4 linked regions of the Homo sapiens genome follow. The protein of the gene in region 3 purifies or fractionates together with the protein of the main gene of each other region. This does not show direct contact. Each region holds a gene or a part of one and is shown on either strand. Other genes may lie near its edges.

Region 1 (4,313 bases), on a different chromosome or scaffold from region 3:
ATGCAACAGATTTGACTATTTCCTATATTAAGATACTCTTAATGCCTATAACTCAATAAATATTAAAAATGAATGTTACATCTATAATAAATAAATGGGAAAATTAGCTTTACTATACAAAGAAAAAGGAATCTCAAAAATCAATCTAAACCATTAGTCTGAGCAACTAATAAGTCAGTAAAGACTATCAGTAAATCAATACCATTCAAGTAAAATTTTATAAACTAATAGTTCAGCATTCTGCAAAACAAAATTGACATCACTTTTTTGAAGCTAATCTGATCATCCTGATTAAATATGGCACGTTACTTCATTACCCTCTTCCTAACACACTACATTACTGAAAGAGACCATGTTTTAAAGAATATATTGCCAATTCTTAACTCTATAATAATGATAAAAAATAGTTACTTCAAAAATCACTTGTTTAAAAAGATACACATTTGAGACTCAAGGATCCCTGCATAGCCATAATAATGTCACAAACATTAAGATATAAAATATGAAACTGCATTTTTATTTAATAAGATCCAATAAACCTTAAGGTTTAATGCCAGCTTGAAAAATAATGCATTTAAGATATCACAAGAACAAAAACAAATTTCAATTAAAATTATACTAGATTTTTGTTTCTGAAGCTCACAAATAATAAATGTGTACATATCAGAATCTAAGCCTCTTTTTCTTTTTTTTTTATTGAGACAGAGTCTCTCTGCTGCTCAGGCTGGAGTGCAGTGGCTCAATCTCAGCTCACTGCAACCTCTGTCTCCTAGGTTCAAGCGATTCTCCTGCCTCAGCCTCCCGAGTAGCTGGCATTACAGGAATGCAATGCCACGCCCAGCTAATTTTTTGTATTTTTAGTAGCACACAGGGTTTCACCATGTTGGTCAGGCTGGTCTCGAACTCCTGACCTTAGGTGATCCGCCCGCTTCAGCCTCCCAAAGTGCTGGGATTACAGGACTGAGCCACCACGCTCAGCCTAAGCCTCTTTTTCACTACCCTCTAAGCGATCTACCACAGTGATGAGGGGCTAAAGAGCAGTGCAATTTGATTACAATAATGGAAATTAGATTTATTAATTAACAATTTTTCCTTAGCATGTTGGTTCCATAATTATTAAGAGTATGGACTTACTTAGAAATGAGCTTTCATTTTAAGAATTTCATCTTTGACCTTCTCTATTAGTCTGAGCAGTATGACACTATACGTATTTTATTTAACTAACCTACCTTGAGCTATTACTTTTTAAAAGGCTATATACATGAATGTGTATTGTCAACTGTAAAGCCCCACAGTATTTAATTATATCATGATGTCTTTGAGGTTGAACGCATATAGAAATGTCAACTAGTTTGGAGATACTGAGTTGGACTTTAGAAAAGAGGTAGGTCTTTGGACGAGCACGGTGGCTCACGCCTGTAATCCCAGTACTTTGGAGGGCCAAGGCAGGCAGGTCACGGGGTCAAGAGATCGAGACCATCCTGGCCAACATGGTGAAACCCCATCTCTACTAAAAATACAAAAATTAGCCAGGCATAGTGGCACGCGCCTGTAGTCCTAGCTACTCAGGGGGCTGAGGCAGGAGAATCACTTGAACCCAGGAGACGGAGGTTGCAGTGAGCAGAGATGGCGCCACTGCACTCCAGCCTGGCAACAGAGCAAGACTCTGTCTCAAAAAAAAAAAAAAAAAAAAAAAAGGAGGTAGGGCTTTAGGGCTTTAAGATAGATATTTGGCAATCATCCTAAACTTAGACGTTTATTAACTGCAATTATTAGAACAGATAAAATTTCTAAGGAGTGACCAATTGCCCCAATAACATGGAATACATTGCTTTCCATCTAGCATGCACTGAATATGTATTAAATGACTTAACATTTTAAAAACGGAAAATTAATCTCCTGTATTACTATGGTTATATGTGATTAAGATACTTCTGGTTTTGAAAATGAGTACATTAAATGTTTATTAGTTATTTTGTAGAACGTATGAACCCATGAAACTCTGCAGGACGCAGTCCCAACTGCCTAGTCCACTGCCTCTAGACATGTTTGGTTTTTACTTACCATAAGAGAACTGGTTATTACTAACCATTCAAACCGATGAAAATACCCAGAAGTCTCCTTCAGGGTATCTTCAAATGTGTCAACTTCTAATTCAATTGTCTTTTTCCTCCCACAACCAGCATTCATTTTCTTATACAACTGAATAATTTTCTACACCAATTCCTACAATTGAAACAGCACCGTCTTCTACCATTTCCCTTTGCAAGATATATACTAAATTTCAGCTAACATAAAAGTTACAGACTTTTATGAAATAGCCTTGATTCTTAACCACATTTATATCATCATTTATTTAGGTAAAACATTCCAAATTCCAAGTAATTACTTCAAAATGGAATTGTCACACAAAGCCCATTTGTTATTTGACTTGTTCAGTTTTTATGTTTTGTTTAACCTATTTCATAGAGTACTGCTCATGGGACCAGGAAGGTTATTAGTGAGCTAGGATTAAACTTCCATCCACAGATGAACAGCCAAGGTAATGTGGAAAAAATGCTAGATTTCAAATCATGACAGGGTCAAAGTAGATGGAGGTGGGAGAGATAGTACGGAAGTATGAAGTAGAACCAATGCAATAGCCAACTATGCAAAATCAGACACAGAGTGCTACATGACAGACAGAAAGAAAAATGGGTAGTAAAAAGATATTTATATTTTCAGGCATCAAGTTCAAAGGGAGCAAGAGTATGAGGATATGGGATTTGCAGAAACAACTTGTCAAGGGAAATGTTTTGGTCCCTCTCTGTCCCCTATCACTTGGAACTTGAAGAAAGTACATTAAATTGAAAAGCCTAGTTCTGTGCTAGTTCTGTGGCAAGTCTTGTGCTATTCACTATCCTCTCCTACTTCTTTTCAATTACTTATTGTTAGCTCTCAACTTATAGGATTTAGTCTGTTTTTCTCTACTTTTACCCTGTCCTGTATCATGACCCTTTAAGGCCATAATCCTTTATCTTACTGATTTTCTATTCTTTTGCACTAAAAATAGTCTTGCTTCCTATAAACCAAATGCAATATTGTACGCTTCTAAGATGGAGGGACCTCCTGTGAAGTTACAGTGAACTAACATTCAAGTTAGTTATGTTCAGGAACATAACCGAAGACAATAGCTTTCTTCCCAGCCTTCCTGCCTCCATCACTATTAAATTTTCCTCTGAAGCTTTCAAACCTGAACACATGATTTTTTTGAGACTTTTTTCTTAAATTATACTTTAAGTTCTGGGATACATGTGCAGAAAGTGCAGATTTGTTACATAGGTATACACACGCCATGGTGTTTTGCTGCACCCATCAACCCGTCATCTACATACCCGTCATCTACATACCCATCATCTACATAAGTATTTCTCCTAATGCTATCCCTTCCCTAACCCCCAACCCCGACAGGCCCTGGTGTGTGATGTTCCCCTCGCTGTGTCCATGTGAACACGATTTTTAAAAATTCATTGGTTTATTCTGAGTATTCATCATCATACAGTTGTGAAAATAGTTACTATACATAAAGGCTAAAAGAATCGATGGAAATTGACTGTAAATAACATGGATTTCTAAACAGGTTCATTAGAATTTTTCTTTTGATAGAATTCATAGTGTCCAGAGAATATTAGGTTGTAGTATGTGCTCAAGCACAAAAGTATTCTTCAGGTATAGATTAAAAACATAATTAAAGCATTTTCATGTGAGCACTTTAAATATGTTTTTAATTTGTACTTAAGGAATATTTTAAATGAATTACAAACATCTGGCTACTATCTCTTTACAAAACAAATGTTCTGCATCTCAGAGAATTACAAAAACTGGGTTTATGGGCCCAGATACTGTTTTCAATGCAAAGATGGGTAAAATTAGTACTTACCTTTGATACTAAATCAATATTAAATCTCCTGCCTTCTTTAATAATTTGTGAGTAAGTAATTCTGTTTTTCTTTGGTTGCTCTGTGGTATCTTCTGCTATAGGCACATTTTCACTCATGTCTTCTGCTGAAGTTGATGGCACACAAGTTTTATCATCACAATGGTTTTCTTTTTCCCCTGTCACTTCAGCACCATTTACTTCTAGCGCATTCTCTGGATCGCTGCTTGGAGTTTGTTCTGTGAGCATTTCACAGCTCATAGTGCTTAATGACTCATCCTCCGTAGGCAGGAAGGCAGAATCTGCAGCTTCTGTGGAGTTTGCAGATGTCACAAGAGCATGATTTTTCTGCAGTGCACCAGCTTCTTCGACATCTTCATGCAAATCCTGACTAATA
Region 2 (3,933 bases), on a different chromosome or scaffold from region 3:
CCCTCTTCTAAAAAACAAAACATTCAACTTTCAAATTCAACATCATCTAAAAATCTTTCTCCAACACAATGGTAAATGATCTGAAGTGCTTTGCTTATCTCCGCTCATGCCTCACTCACTCTCCTGCCAATCTTGTTCACCTTTTCAAATCTTCCTCCTCAAGGAGAAACCCCCCAAAATGCCTCCTCCTCGGGACAAGCCTTCCTCCTCTGAATTTCAACCTGGCCAACAAACCCCTTCGTCTGGCTCCTGCCCTCTCCCATTCCCTCCACCTTCTCCTTCGGATCCGGCTCCTCCACCCCCTTACTGTCACCCTCCATCCCCCTTCCTTCTCCACCTCAAACCAGGTCTCACGCCCAACGCTCTTTTGCCGAAAACCAGACACATGCCCAAAGGCCTTCCAAAGTCTTTCCCTTGCAGGAGGTTGCAAGGACTGAAGGCATAATCTGAATTCAAGTTCCCTAGCTGACTTCTCCCATACTGAAAAGAGACTTTGCTCCTTTTCAATGGATCCTACCTCCTTCCTCAAGGAATGTCTGTACTTCCCTAAATCTTATGACCTTACCTGGCATGACATATATGTCATCCTCTCCTCTACCCTCACCCTGGAGGACAGGGAACACATATTTACGGGTGCCCAGGTCCATGAGAACACCCTCCACCAACAAGATGCTGCTCATAACCCAGTAGGGACCCTAGCTGTCCCCAGAACTGACCTCAATCGGAATTATCAGGCAACTTCTGTAGACAGGCAGAAACCAGGCCATATGATATCATGCCTTCTAGCTGGCATAAATAAAGTCGCCCCTGCTCTTTTCCTCTCCCGCCTTTTCAAAGGTCACAACTAAATATGCCACCTTAAGCCCTAATACCATTAAGGGCAAAATCTACCTCCATTTACACTTTATCTCCCAGTCAGCCCCAGACATTTGAAAAAAAACTTTAAAAAGTGGAGGATGGCCCTCAAACCTCCAAAGAGACTTAATCAAAGTGGCCTTTAAGGTCTATAAGATTAGAGAGGAAGAACTAAAAAACCCAAACCTAAAAAAGGGCCAGGCTAAATATCAAATGCTGATAGCTGCCACTCAACAGGGTTCCCAAGGCATACAGAATTCCTCAACTTGGCAACAGTCAACTCCAGGAGCCTGTTATAAGTGCATCCAACAGGGACACTGAGCAAAAGCCTGGCCTAATCCCGTGACACTCTGGAAGCCTTGCCCCATCTGTGATATCAAGCAACACTGGAAGTCAGACTGTGCTCAGTGAAACTCTTCATCTAGCTTCACCACCTGTACCTGAAGACAGGTGGGGCCTAGAGTCCACCACCCCTACTGCCATCACCACCTCGGAACCCAGGGTAATTCTGTCAGTCTCTAGTAAGTCCATGTCTTTCCTATTGGATACTCAATACGACAACTAGTTACTCGGTTTTACCAGAATATTCTAGACCCTTTTTCTGTTCTTCGATCTCTATTGTGAGAATCAATAAAATCCCCTCTAGGCACAGACTCGTCCTTTATTATGCAACCTATTCAACAGCCCCCTTCACCCACTGTTTCCTGGTTATCCCTCAGTCCCCTACCCCTATCTTGGGGTGGGACATATTAAGTAAATTCCAGGCCTCCATGCAATGCGGCTCCTACAATTCTACCCCTTTTATTTTACTCCGACACCCAAACGCTTCCCTCTCCCCCTACTCATCCTCATTATCCACCCTGTTACCTTCTGTTAATTCTAAAGCTTGGAATGTTTCTAAACCCACAATAGCCACACATCACATCCCAGTTAAAATAACCTTTCAAAACTCCTCCATTTTCTTTTTTCAGTCTCAATATCCCCTTAATCCAGCCGTGCTTAGGGGCCTCAAACCTATTATTTGTAAACTTTAACAAGCTCATATTCTCAAGCCTGTTAACTCTCCCCAGAACACCCCTATTCTGGCTTTCCAAAAGACAGACGGGACTTACCCCTTTGTCCAGGATCTCCAAGTTGTTGACCAGGCAGTGGTACCAATACATCTAGTGGTCCTCAACCAATATGCTCTACTCTCCCATATTCCTAAATCTACTACACACTCCTCTGTATTGGAACTGAAAGATGCCTATTTCACCATTCCCTTAAATCCGGCTTACAGAAGTCTTTTTGCTTTAACTTGGTCAAGTCCTAATACTCACATGTGCACCCAACTAGAGTGGACTGTACTCTTACAGGGGTTCCAGGATAGCCCCCACCTATTCAGACTTGCCCTCATCAAGGACCTAGGTGAACTTTCCCTTGCTGCTAGCACCCTCCTGCAACATGTCAAACTCCTTCTCTGTAGCCCCTTCCTTAACCTGTCCATCCAACACACCACTTAGGTTTTAAACTTCCTCCATAATAGAGGAAATCTCAGGTAGCCCAAACCAAAGTTTGGGCCTAGCCCACAATATTTCAGGTAGCCCAAACCAAAGTTACTTACCTTGGGTTTGTCCTAACCCCTAATTCTCGAGCCATCCCAACCCAATGAAAGGAGCTAATTTGGGACATGCCCTTTCCTCACACAAAAAAGTACCTTCTCTCCTTCTCGGGCCTTGTGGGTTACTTCTGGCTGTCAGTTCCCAATTTTGACTTGCTGGCCAAGCCACTAAACAGGGCCTCACATGGGCCCATCCTAAAACCCCTAAACCCAGCTTGCCCCATCAACTCCCACTTAAAAACTTAAAAATGCCCTTTTAATGGCCCTGGCACAGGGACTGCCCAACCTCACCAAGCCCGTTACTTTGTATGTACATTCTGACCAGGGCCTTGCCCTTGGACTACTCTGCCAAACATACGGCAACGCCACACAAGCCACTGCACTTCTCTCAAAACAACTGGACTCTGTTGTTTTGTGTGACCAAGGCTGGTCACTCTGACTAAAAATCTTGGCTGTGGCCACATCGCTGGCCTTAGAGGCACGGAAACTCCCTCTTTACCAACACATTACTATTGCATCTTCCCATTACCTACAGGACCTCATAAACCATCAATCCCTTCTATCCCTCCTACCATCCTGCTTATAACAGGTACATGCCTTATTCCTAGGTAGCCCTCTAATCCCCTTCCAGAGATATAAAACTCTCAACCCAGCCACCCTCCTCCCTGTAAACACTTCCGATTCTAGGCTCTCTCACTCCTGTCTGGACCTCTTAGACTCCCTCTCCTCCTCCTTCCAACACATTTCACATGCCCCTTTGCAGGGAACACATACACGGTTAGTTAATGGAAGCTCTTTTAGGGAGCCATGTCCAGCAGCTGGCTATTCCATCATTGCTGAAAATAAACTCCTAGAATCCAATGCTCTGCCACCCCATGCTACCTCTCAACAGCCTAAGCTAGTTGCCCTAACCAGGGCCCTCACCCTAGCAAAGGGAAAGAGGGTCAACATTTACACCCATTCCAAATATGCATACCATGTCCTACAGTCTCATGCCTTCATCTGGCAGGAACAGGGTTTCCTAACTACAAAAGGAACTCCCATAAGAAATGGCAAACTTATACATAAGCTGCTGGGGGTGGATAAACTACCACCAAAGGCCACCATTATCCATTGCAAGGGGTGCCGAAAGTCTAAAGATGCCATAACCGAGAGAAACCTTTCAACAAATTTGGCAGCCTGGCAGGCAGCCCTTAAAACCCCATCGTTATTGCTCATTTTTTCCTGTATATACCCAGAAGGAATGAACCCCACTTGCCCGGGCTGGTGCCATTCAGGAAAAAATTGTTTGATCTCAGTGATAAAGTGTCTTGTCCAAGTTTAAAAAACCTTCTGTACTTTCATATGTGCACAACCATTTCCATGCTGCTTACTGCCCCTACTCCAGCTTTTAGAAAATTATATACATTCTTCTGCCATGGCTGCCAATCTGAAATATATTACTAAGGCATGTTCCCTTTGCACTCAAACTTCCCCTC
Region 3 (5,978 bases):
TTTCACAAGTTTAATACGTTTTATTTATTTTATAATTTTTATTTATGTTGCCCAGGATGGAGTGCAGTGGCGTGATCTCAGCTCACTGTAACCTCCACCTCATGGGTTCAGGTGATTCTCTTGCCTCAGCCTTCTTAGTAGCTGGGATTACAGGTGCCCGCCACCACACCTGGCTAATTTTCTTGTATTTTTAGTGGAGACCGGGTTTCACCATGTTGGCCAGGCTGGCCTTGAACTCCTGGCCTCAGTCGGGTGTGGTGGCTCACACCTGTAATCCCAGCACTTTGGGAGGCTGAGACAGGCAGATCACAAGGTCAGGAGATCGAGACCATCCTGGCTAACATAGTGAAACCCCGTCTCTACTAAAAATACAAAAAAAATTAGCTGGGCGTGGTGGCGGGCACCTGTAGTCTCAGCTATTTGGGAGGCTGAGGCAGGAGAATGGCATGAGCCTGGCAGGCAGAGCTTGCAGTGAGCTAAGATCGTGCCACTGCACTCCAGCCTGGGTGACAGAGCAAGACTCTGTCTCAAAAAAAAAAAAAAAAAAAAAAGAACTCCTGGCCTCAGGTGATCTGCCTGTCTTGGCCTCCCAAAGTGTTGGGATTACAGGTATGAGCCACTGTGCCTGGCCCTCTAGATATAATTAAATGTCTAAAACTTAAGGACAAAACCATCATTCACCCAAACATATGACGTATCAAGTGAGCTGAGATGACAGTCCTATTACTGCTCACTTACCTCTATATATGGCAACTAGTAGAACTGGGTATTTATATCAGAAGCCTTAGAATTATCCTTGTAGAATATTGAATTTTACAAAATTATCTGCAATCCACTTATGCCTCCTTTTATTTCTCCTTCCAGGAACCTTGACACTCTCCTTGGTCGTCTCAGGAAATCTTACTTTTTTTTTTGTTTTGTTTCTTTTTTGAGATGGAGTCTCGCTCTGTCGCCCAGTGGCTGTGATCTCAGCTCACTGCAACCTCTGCCTCCTGGGTTCAAGCAATTCTCCTGCCTCAGCCTCCCAAGTAGCTAGGATTACTGTATGCACCACCACACCCGACTGATTTTTGTAGTTTTAGTAGAGACGGGGGTTTCACCATGTTGGCCAGGCTAGTCTCGAACTACTGACCTCAGGTGATCCGCCTGCCTCGGCCTCCCAAAGTGCTGGGATTACGGGTGTGAGCCACTGCACTTGGCCAGGAAATCTTTTCAACATAAATTATTTCTCAAGGAAAATTTACTTTGAGGTTTAAGACACATATATAGTTCTGCCATATTTATTAAATGGCTCTTGAAGTATTTGATCTGTGGTTGAAGGCAGAAGATATCCACAATGGTTTGAGGAGCTCTGTCTTCAGAAATCTTTTTGTAAATCTAAAATAGAATAGATAATATATGGAAGAACAGCAAAGGAAACAAAACAAAGCCCATTTACTTTTACATTCTTTTTTGCCTAATGCTTCTATTTAACACACATCATGCACAAAGATTTGCTTACACATTTGCTGAAGTCCACATCATAGGCTGAGCTAGTATGGAACAGTGAGGATACAAAGGACTTAATACGGCCAGTTGCAATGGCAGCTTCAACCAGGCTTTCCAAGCTCAGAGTTGTTGTTCATCCAATAATCACACATATGAGTGTCTACTGAGTAGAGCATTATCTTAGGCACTACTGCTTAAACTATCACATATTTAAATAAAAAATGAAGTGGCAAGATAATTTGTATTGCTATAACATTGTCACAGTTTTCTAGAGTAGCCTTCATCTCTTGAATAATATTCAATCTGCTGATTTTTTTCATATTGGCTTATACATATGCTCATATGTCTCCCATTTAGAGTACCCTTCATTTGACACTGCTATCCTCTTTGTGTTTCTTTCCAGTTATTATATGCAGCAGGATTTTATTAGTTTCCTACTGTACCTGACACTTGATAATCTTGCACTTTTCTTTCCCCTGGCTTCTATAACATTTTCCCTTCCATCTTTCATCTCTTCACTTCTAAATCATTAGCAAGTCTCAAGGATGGTTCCAGTATTTGCACCTTTCGGAGATCTCCAGTGCTACTGTTCTAGTGGCAATAGCGCAGTTGGCCTCTTGGGCTCTATTCTAGTCCCTGTCTTGCCCAGATTTATCTTTCTAGATAAAAACTACAAATCATGGCATTCCCTTCCTCAGAACTTTTAAAAGCTTCCTATTAAGCCCAAAACCAAGCCCAAACACATAAGCTTGGAATTCAAGGCCATTCAGTTTGCTTCTTTGGATTTATAGCCCATCACTTCTGGACACACCATATACTAGATTAGCTGTACTACTTGATGGCTTCCAGAGTAACTGGATGCTTTCCTGTCTGTCTTTGCTCTTGATGTTCCTTCAAGAATGAACAACCCTTGGCCTTTTTCCACCTCCATACCCTTTATCTTATCATATTTCTGCTTGTGGAAATCCTTCTCATACCTTATGGTATAGTATATTGGCATTAGGGATTAGAAATTTTTTTTTTTTTTGAGATAGTGTCTTGCTCTGTTGCCCAGGCTGGAGTGCAATGGTGCGATCTTGGCTCACTGCAACCTCCACCTCCCAGCTTCAAGTGATTCTCCTGCCTCAGCCTCCCAAGTAGCTGGGATTACAGGCGCACAATACCACGCCCGGCTAATTTTTGTATTTTTAGTAGAGACGGGGTTTCACCGTGTTGGCCAGGCTGGTCTTGAACTCCTGACCTCAGGTGATCCACCTGCTTTGGCCTCCCAAAGTGCTAGGATTACAGGTGTGAGCCACCGTGTCCGGCCTAGGGTTTTTTTTTTTTTTTGAGACGGAGTTTTGCTCTTGTTGCCCAGGCTGGAGTGCGATGGCACAATTTCAGCTCACTGCAACCTCTGCCTCCTGGGTTCAAGTGATTCTCCTGCCTCAGCCTCCCTAGTAGCTGGGATTACAGGCTCCCACCACCACACCCAGCTAATTTTTTGTATTTTTAGTAGAGATGGGGTTTTACTATGTTGGCTAGGCTTGTTTTGAACTCCTGACCTCAGGCGATCCACCTGCCTCAGCATCCCAAAGTGCTGGGATTACAGGTGTGAGCCACTGCACCCGGCTAGGGATTAGAATTCTTACAGCAGCTACACTGAAAGGAGTTCAGATACCACCATTTTCATATGAAATCTCAGAGTCCATCAGATAAAATCTCTTTCTTAGCATTTTGTACTTTTTTTTTTGTATTAAGTTAGTACTTCTTTTTTTTTTTTGAGATGGAGTCTTGCTCTGTTGCCCAGGCTGGAGTGCGATGGTGTGATCTCAGCTCACTGCAACCTCTGCCTCCCCGGTTCAAGCGATTCTCATGTCTCGGCCTCCTGAGTAGCTGGGATTACAGGTGCCTGCCACCACGCCCAGCTAATTTTTTGTATTTTTAGTAGAAACAGGGTTTCACCATGTTGGCCAGGCTGGTCTCGAACTCCTGACCTCAAGTGATCCAACTGCCTTGGTCTCCCAAAGTGCTGGGATTACAGGCGTGAGCCACCGTGCCTGGCCAAGTTAGTACTTCTTAAGGGCAAGGAGGCATGATGTTAATTCATCTTTGTCTCCCTTATAGACCTGATACTTAGAATGTGTTTAATAACTATGTGTTAAATTGAATTAAGGAACCTCAATTTCCAAAACATTAAGGATAGTAAGATAAATCTGTAAATTTTGGGAGGAGGGCAAAGAAAGACTAGAACTCAAAAATTGCTCATTTCTACTAATAATAAGATCTAACTAGATAGAAGGGAAAGGCATAGCGTCTTACCACTCTTCTTAAGAAGTTCTCCTTTTCGGGATTTATCCAGATTTTCAAGAAAATGTTCAAAAACTTTCACATAAGGTGCTAGACTGGTCTTCTTATAATCTAAATTATGAAGAATGTACATTATAATTAGCATACTGGCAGCAAGAATAACATGAAAACACAACTAAGTTTCTTATAAGAATTCTCTAGGGCTGCCCAATTGAAATATGAGAGAAACATACATACTTTTAAATACTATATTAGTCACATTAAAAAAGGTGAAATTATTACTGAGACAGGATTTCACTCTGTCATGCAGACTGAAGTACAGTGGTTCCGTCTTGGCTCACTGCAGCCTCGATCTACTGGGCTCAAGGGATCTTCCCATCTCTGCTTCCTGAGTAGCTATAACTACAGGCATGTACCACCATGCCCAACCAATTTTTTTTTTTTTTTTGGTATTTGTAGAGACGAGGTCTCACTCTGTTGCTCAGGCTAGTCTTGAACTCCTGAGCTCGAGTGATCTCCCAGCCTCGGCCTCTGAAAGTGCTGGGATTACAGACACATGCCACCATGCCCAGCTAAAATATTATTTTTGCATGTAATAAAAATTGAGATATATGATACTCTCTTTCATACAAGTCTTTTATATTTATATATATATATATAATATATATACATATATTTTCTTTTTTTTTTTTTTTGAGACAGAGTGTCACTCTGTTGCCCAGGCTGGAGTGCAATGGTGCGATCTCGGCTTACTGCAACTTCCGCCTCCCAGGTTCAAGCAATTCTCCTACCTCAGCCTCCCGACTAGCTGGGATTATAGGTGCCCGCCACCACAATGAGCTAATTTTTTGTATTTTTAGTAGAGATAGGGTTTCACCATGTTGGCCAGGCTGGTCTCAAACTCCTGACCTCATGATTCACCCACTTTGGCCTCCCAAAGTGCTGGGATTACAGGCGTGAGCCACCGCGCCCGGTCCATGCCTTTATTTTTGAGTCTTGCTCTGTTGCCAGGCTGGTATGCAGTGGTGCAATCTTGGCTCGGGAACCTCCGCCTCCCGAGTTCAAGCGATTCTCCTGCCTCAGCCTCCTGAGTAGCTGGGACTATAGGTGTGTGCCACCATGCCCGGCTAAGTTTTTGTATTTTTAGTAGAGACGGGGTTTCACCATGCTGTCCAAGATGGTTTTGATCTCTTGACCTCGTGATCCACCTGCCTCAGTCTCCCAAAGTGCTGGGATTACAGGCGTGAGCCACCGTGCCCGGCCCCATGTCTTATTTTTGAGACACTGTCTTGCTTTTTTGCCCAGGCTAGAATGCAGTGGTGCAATTGCAGCTCACTGCAGCTTTGACTTCCCTGGCTTAAATGATCCTCCCACCTCAGCCTCCCAAGTAGCTGGGATCACAGGGAGTGCCACCACAGCTGGCTAATTTTTTATTTTTAGTAGAGACAAGGTCTTGTGTTGCTCAGGCTCTGGTCACGCCCTTTTGGAGATTATTAGAAGTTTTTACATTGAGTATTCTTGTTTTTTTTTTTTTGAGATGGAGTCTTGCTCTGTCTCCCAGGCTGGAGTGCAGTGGGGCAATCTCGGCTTATTGCAACCTCCACCTCCTGGGTTCAAGCGATTCTTCTGCCTCAGCCTCCCGAGTAGCTAGGATTATAGGCGCCCGCCACGACGCCCAGATAATTTTTGTATTTTTAGTAAAGATGGGGTTTCGCCATGTTGGCCAGGCTGGTCTTGAACTCCTGACCTCAGGTGATCCACCCGCCTCAGGCTCCCAAAGTGCTGGGCCTACAGGCATCAGCCACTACGCCTGGCCTGCATTAAGTATTCTTTGATTTATAAAATAGTTTAAAAAATGTATACAACAAAAAATTTAATATAGGCAGGGTGCGGTGGCTCATGCCTATAATCCCAGCACTTTGGGAGGCCGAGGCAGGTGGATTACGTGAGGTCGTGAGTTCGAGACCAGCCTGACCAACATGGAGAAACCCTGTCTCTAGTAAAAATACAAAAATTAGCTGGACGTCGTGGCGGGCACCTGTAACTCCAGCTACTCAGGAGGCTGAGGCAGGAGAATTGCTTGAACCCAGGAGGCGGAGGTTGCAATGAGCTGAGATTGCACCATTGCACACCAGCCTGGGTGACAGAGTAAGACTCTTTCTCTAAAAAAAAAAAAAAAAAAAAAAAAAAAAAGAATATAC
Region 4 (4,313 bases), on a different chromosome or scaffold from region 3:
GTGTATCTTTTTTTTTTTTTTTTTTTGGAGACAGGGTCTCCCTCTGTCACCCAGGCTGCAGTGCAGTGGTGCGATCATAGCTCACTGCAGCCTCAACTCCCGGGCTCAAGCCATCCTCCCACCTCAGCCTCCCAAGTAGCTGGGGCACCTATAGGTGCTCACCACCACAACTGACAAAAGTTTTGTGGGATTTTTTTTTTTTTTTTTTTGTAGAGACAGGGTCTCATTATGTTGCCCAGGCTGGTCTCAAATTCCTGGGTTCAAGTGATCCTCCTGTCTCAGCCTCCCAAAGTGCTGGGATTACAGGTGTGAGCCACTGCACCCAGCCTTTTTTTTGAGACTGGGTCTTTCTCTGCTGCCCAGGCTAGGGTGCAATGACACAATCATAGCTCACTGTAACCTCCAACTCCGGGGCTCAAGCAAGCCTCCCACCTTGTTCTCCCAAAGTGCTGAGTTTACAGGCGTGAGCCATCATGCCTAGCCTGTTCTTTTTAAAAAAATCCACACTGCTCTCCACTGTGACGCCGCCCTGCCCATGCCCCTGACTACACTTCTCCCCTCTCCTCCCGCTCCCCTTCCCCAGGTGGACCTCCTGCGCTCTGCTCACCTGCACCCGCTACTCCTTCTGGCGGGAACTCTTCCTCCCTTTTCACCTGGCTGCTGCCTCCTTTCCTTCAGATGCTCCCAGCCTCCAGGTGCTTCCTCTGGGCTCACACAGCCCCCTGTGTTCCCTCACTCCTGCCTTGGTCACGCCGCCCGTTTCCCCACCGCGACTGACACTGCCCCACGCTTCGAAGCGCACAGGCCGCGTGCCTCTGGCTTCTGCTTCCTCCCTCGCTGGACAGATCACTCCGCCTGCGCCTCCCACTTCCCTCCACAAACACTCTGGGCCGTCAGTGTCGGCAGATGGTTCCGTCACCTCCAGGGACTGAGATCGTTTCGAGTCCCCCCCAACCCCGCGCCCCTAGGCAGAGCGTGGTCTCCGAGGCTCCACTGTGCCCCCAACATTTCCTCCCGGCCTTGGAGCCCTGGAGCCCGGGACCGGGCCCGCGAGCCACGCACCTACATACATGACGGTGCCCCGGCGAGGGGATTGTCCCGCCGCCCGCACCTCACAGCGGCTGCCCACGGGGATGGAGCTGGCCTGGGCCTTCTCCTCGGCCAGGCGCTGGGCGGCCTCGGCCTCCTGCTGAGCCCGCTCCTCCTCGTTGTACCGGCCGAGCTTGCTGCGCTTCAGGAAAGAGCGGACCGTGTCTGTGGGCAGAGGGGGCTGGGGTCAGTTGGGGTGTCGGCCGGGCCTAACAGGATGACGCTCCACCCACGAGGGGCCCACGTTCACGGAGGAACTCTCTCTTCCAGGTGACAAAGGGCTGTCACCCAAGCCCCAGGTCTCCCACCACAGCCTTAGCCTCTCCCAGGACTCCTAGGCCCCCCAACTCCACAATCGTAAATGGAAGGGGTGCCGCCTGCACCCCTCACTACAGGACCCATGGTCTCTCACCCCTTCAGCGCACATCTGCCTTCATCATCCGCCTTCCTCCTCCGCCCTCCTCCGGCCCTGAGGCCCCCGGTCTCCCCCAACACTCGATCCGTCCCAGGCGCCCTCACTGACCGCCACCCTGTCCACTCGCATTCCACCTGTCCTGCCCTCCACACCCCGTCCGACCGCCCCATGCCCCCATCTGACCCTGACAACACCCAGCCCCCACACCTACCCCTCAACTCCCTCCACTTTCCCAGCCCTCCCCCGACCACGTCTGACTGCCCATACCCCTGACACCTCCCGGCCCTCATTCCCACCCCAGGCCTCCGTCTGTCCCCACTCCCAGCCTCACCCCTATATCCTCCCAAGCTCTCGGCCCCCCGTCTACACCACTGGCCTCCCTGCAGGGGCCCTGTCTAACCTGCCCGCCCTCATACCTGCACATACTCCCTCTGGCCCCCACGCACCCCTCGACGCCCACCTGCCCGTACCTTGCCTCTGGTCGTAGGCTTCTTGTGAGATCGTGTACTTCTCCACCCGGGACACGTCCTCATACTCACCAAGGCGGGCGCCACTGTGGTCAATGACCTGTGTGAGGGGAGGGGCTCCGTGGGGATCAGGGTCTGGCCAGGGAGGCCTGGGTGCTGGGTGCAGGGACTTCAGTGTCTCCATCTGGGAAAAACGCATCTCCCTCCCTCGCCTGTACTGCAGCCTTCTCTTCTCTCCTGAGCCCAGCGGAAGGGAGAAGTAGCTACGTACACTGGCCACCTCCCCTTCCTCACCCCCATCCAAGCTCCCAGAGGCTGCCTCTGTCCCCAGAAGTTCCCCGCTTGCTGGCATCAACATCGCCAAGGGCCCCAAAGTCACAGAGTCCAACCGGCAGAGCTCAGGCCTTGCCCACAGCCCTGTGCACAGCGCATCTCCTCGATGGGCCTCTGGGACTCTCCTAAGCTGGCCCCAACCTCAGGCCCCAGAGCATCTCTTCCTGTTCTGCCCCCACTATTCATTCATTCATTGGTTTCCGAGCTCCCAGGGGCCCAGCTGGGCCTCATGCTGGGGACTCAGTGTAAACACAGACGCACTCTGCCCTCAGGCTGTGCTCATTGTGCAGGGAGAAGGCCAACCACAAACAAAGGAACAGGTACCTATGAAACACTGGAGGATGGCTATGGAGAAAAATATGACAGGGAAGAGGCTTAAGGAGCATGGGAGGGTAGGCTTCCCAAAAGAGGGGATGTTTCAGCCAAGGCTGGAAAGATGAGCAAGAACGGCAGGTGCAGACGGCCAGAGGTAGAAATGTCCTTCACGCTCTAGAGTGGGTGGTGCGGGTGGGGTGGAGCGAGCCAGAGGGAGAGTGGAAGACACAAGGGACTGCTGGAGACTTTGGGTTTTTTTTTTTTTTTTGACGGAGTCTCGCTCTGTCACCCAGGCTGGAGTGTGGTGGTGTGATCTCAGCTCACGGAAACCTCTGCCTCACTGCAAATTCAAGTGATTCTCCTGCCTCAGCCTCCCGGGCAGCTGAAACTATAGGCACACACCACCACACCCGGCTAATTTTTGTATTTTTAAGTAGAGACGACATTTTGCCATGCTGGTCAGGCTGGTCTAGAACTCCTGACCTCAAGTGATCTTCCCACCTCAGCCTCCCAATGTACTGGGTGGGATTACAGGCACGATCCACCGCACCTGGCCTAGACTTTGGTTTTTATCTGGAGCGAAGTGCCACCAGGGCAGGGCTCTGAGCTAGGAGGGCCCTGGCCTGACTCAGGTGGTCCCAGGCTCCCTCTGGCTGAGATGGGGAGCGGGGAGGCCAGGGAGGAAGCTGCCGGGATGGCGAGGTTGGGGGAAGGATGGAGGCTGGACCAGGGTCAGGGAAGTTTTTGTAGGTGGAGCCGAGAGGATTTGATGAGAGTGGATGTGGGGGTGAGGGAGAGAGCGGGCCCAAGGAACACCCTGAGGTGTCTGGCCTAAGCCACTGGGCTAACATGGCAAAATAGGAATGGCCTTTACCTCCGGATGAAGCGTCACTGAGAATTTCTGTTGAGAATTTTCACAAATTTGAAGTTCTGTTATTTTAAACAATGAATATGGGTGATATTTATAAAGAGAAAAAGAATTTTAGAAAATGTAAAAATTCCCCAGTGGCTCCACTCTGGAACACCTTCCTTGAGTGGCCTGGGAGGTCTGTGTGTACCTGAACCGCCTGTTATGAAACCTGCTCAAAGATGCCACTGCCTATGAGGTGCCTATGAACACCCGCACCCCTTAGCTTCAGCTGCCCAGGGTGGCCCAAAGGCTCAGTCCTGTGCACCCAGCAGAGGCCTGACCCACAGCTCCAGACCTCGTCCCCTCATCAGGACTCTCACAGCAGCCCCTTCCTGGTCTCCCTACTCTTCCTGTCCTCCACCACCTGTTCCCCACACACAGCCAGAGGGGGCCTGTGAACACCTGAGCCAGGTCAGGGTCCTCCCCAGCTTCCACAGTGTTTGGCCACAGAAGTGGCCTGTCTTAATCCCCACCGCGCTCCCTCCCACCTTGGAGTGTTTGCTGGGTTGTGCCCCACTCCTAGGGCACCCCTTCCCCATCTTCAGTTAACCTTTTTTTTTTTTTTTTTTTTAAAGATAGGATCTCACTCTATCATCCAAACTGGAGTGCAGTGGTGTGATCTCAGCTCACTGCAACTTCCAGCTCCTGGGTTCAAGTGATCCTCCTGCCTCAGCCTCCTGAGTAGCTAGGATTACAGGCATCTGCCACCACGCCCAGCTAATTTCTGTATTTTTAGGAGAGACGGGGTTTCACCGTCTCGAACTCCTGACCTTAAGTGATCTGT

The links.
Region 1: the proteins of PRIM1 (region 3) and CHM purify together in Homo sapiens (co-immunoprecipitation; one large-scale study listed by IntAct). This does not show direct contact.
Region 2: the proteins of PRIM1 (region 3) and SPANXN3 purify together in Homo sapiens (co-immunoprecipitation; one large-scale study listed by IntAct). This does not show direct contact.
Region 4: the proteins of PRIM1 (region 3) and TBCB fractionate together in Homo sapiens (co-fractionation; one large-scale study listed by BioGRID). This does not show direct contact.

The regions. Positions count from the first base shown.
Region 1 is NC_000023.11:85,959,746-85,964,058, forward strand, and holds part of CHM (rab proteins geranylgeranyltransferase component A 1), read right to left. Parts: intron 4,308-4,313; coding exon 3,920-4,307; intron 1-3,919. UniProt on the Homo sapiens protein: Substrate-binding subunit of the Rab geranylgeranyltransferase (GGTase) complex.
Region 2 is NC_000023.11:143,510,543-143,514,475, forward strand, and holds part of SPANXN3 (sperm protein associated with the nucleus on the X chromosome N3), read right to left. Parts: intron 1-3,933.
Region 3 is NC_000012.12:56,730,358-56,736,335, forward strand, and holds the end of PRIM1 (DNA primase small subunit), read right to left. Parts: intron 3,889-5,978; coding exon 3,790-3,888; intron 1,378-3,789; coding exon 1,358-1,377; 3' UTR 1,223-1,357; downstream 1-1,222. UniProt on the Homo sapiens protein: Catalytic subunit of the DNA primase complex and component of the DNA polymerase alpha complex (also known as the alpha DNA polymerase-primase complex - primosome/replisome) which play an essential role in the initiation of DNA synthesis.
Region 4 is NC_000019.10:36,118,468-36,122,780, reverse strand, and holds part of TBCB (tubulin-folding cofactor B), read right to left. Parts: intron 2,072-4,313; coding exon 1,975-2,071; intron 1,255-1,974; coding exon 1,063-1,254; exon of another isoform or gene 608-1,062; intron 1-607.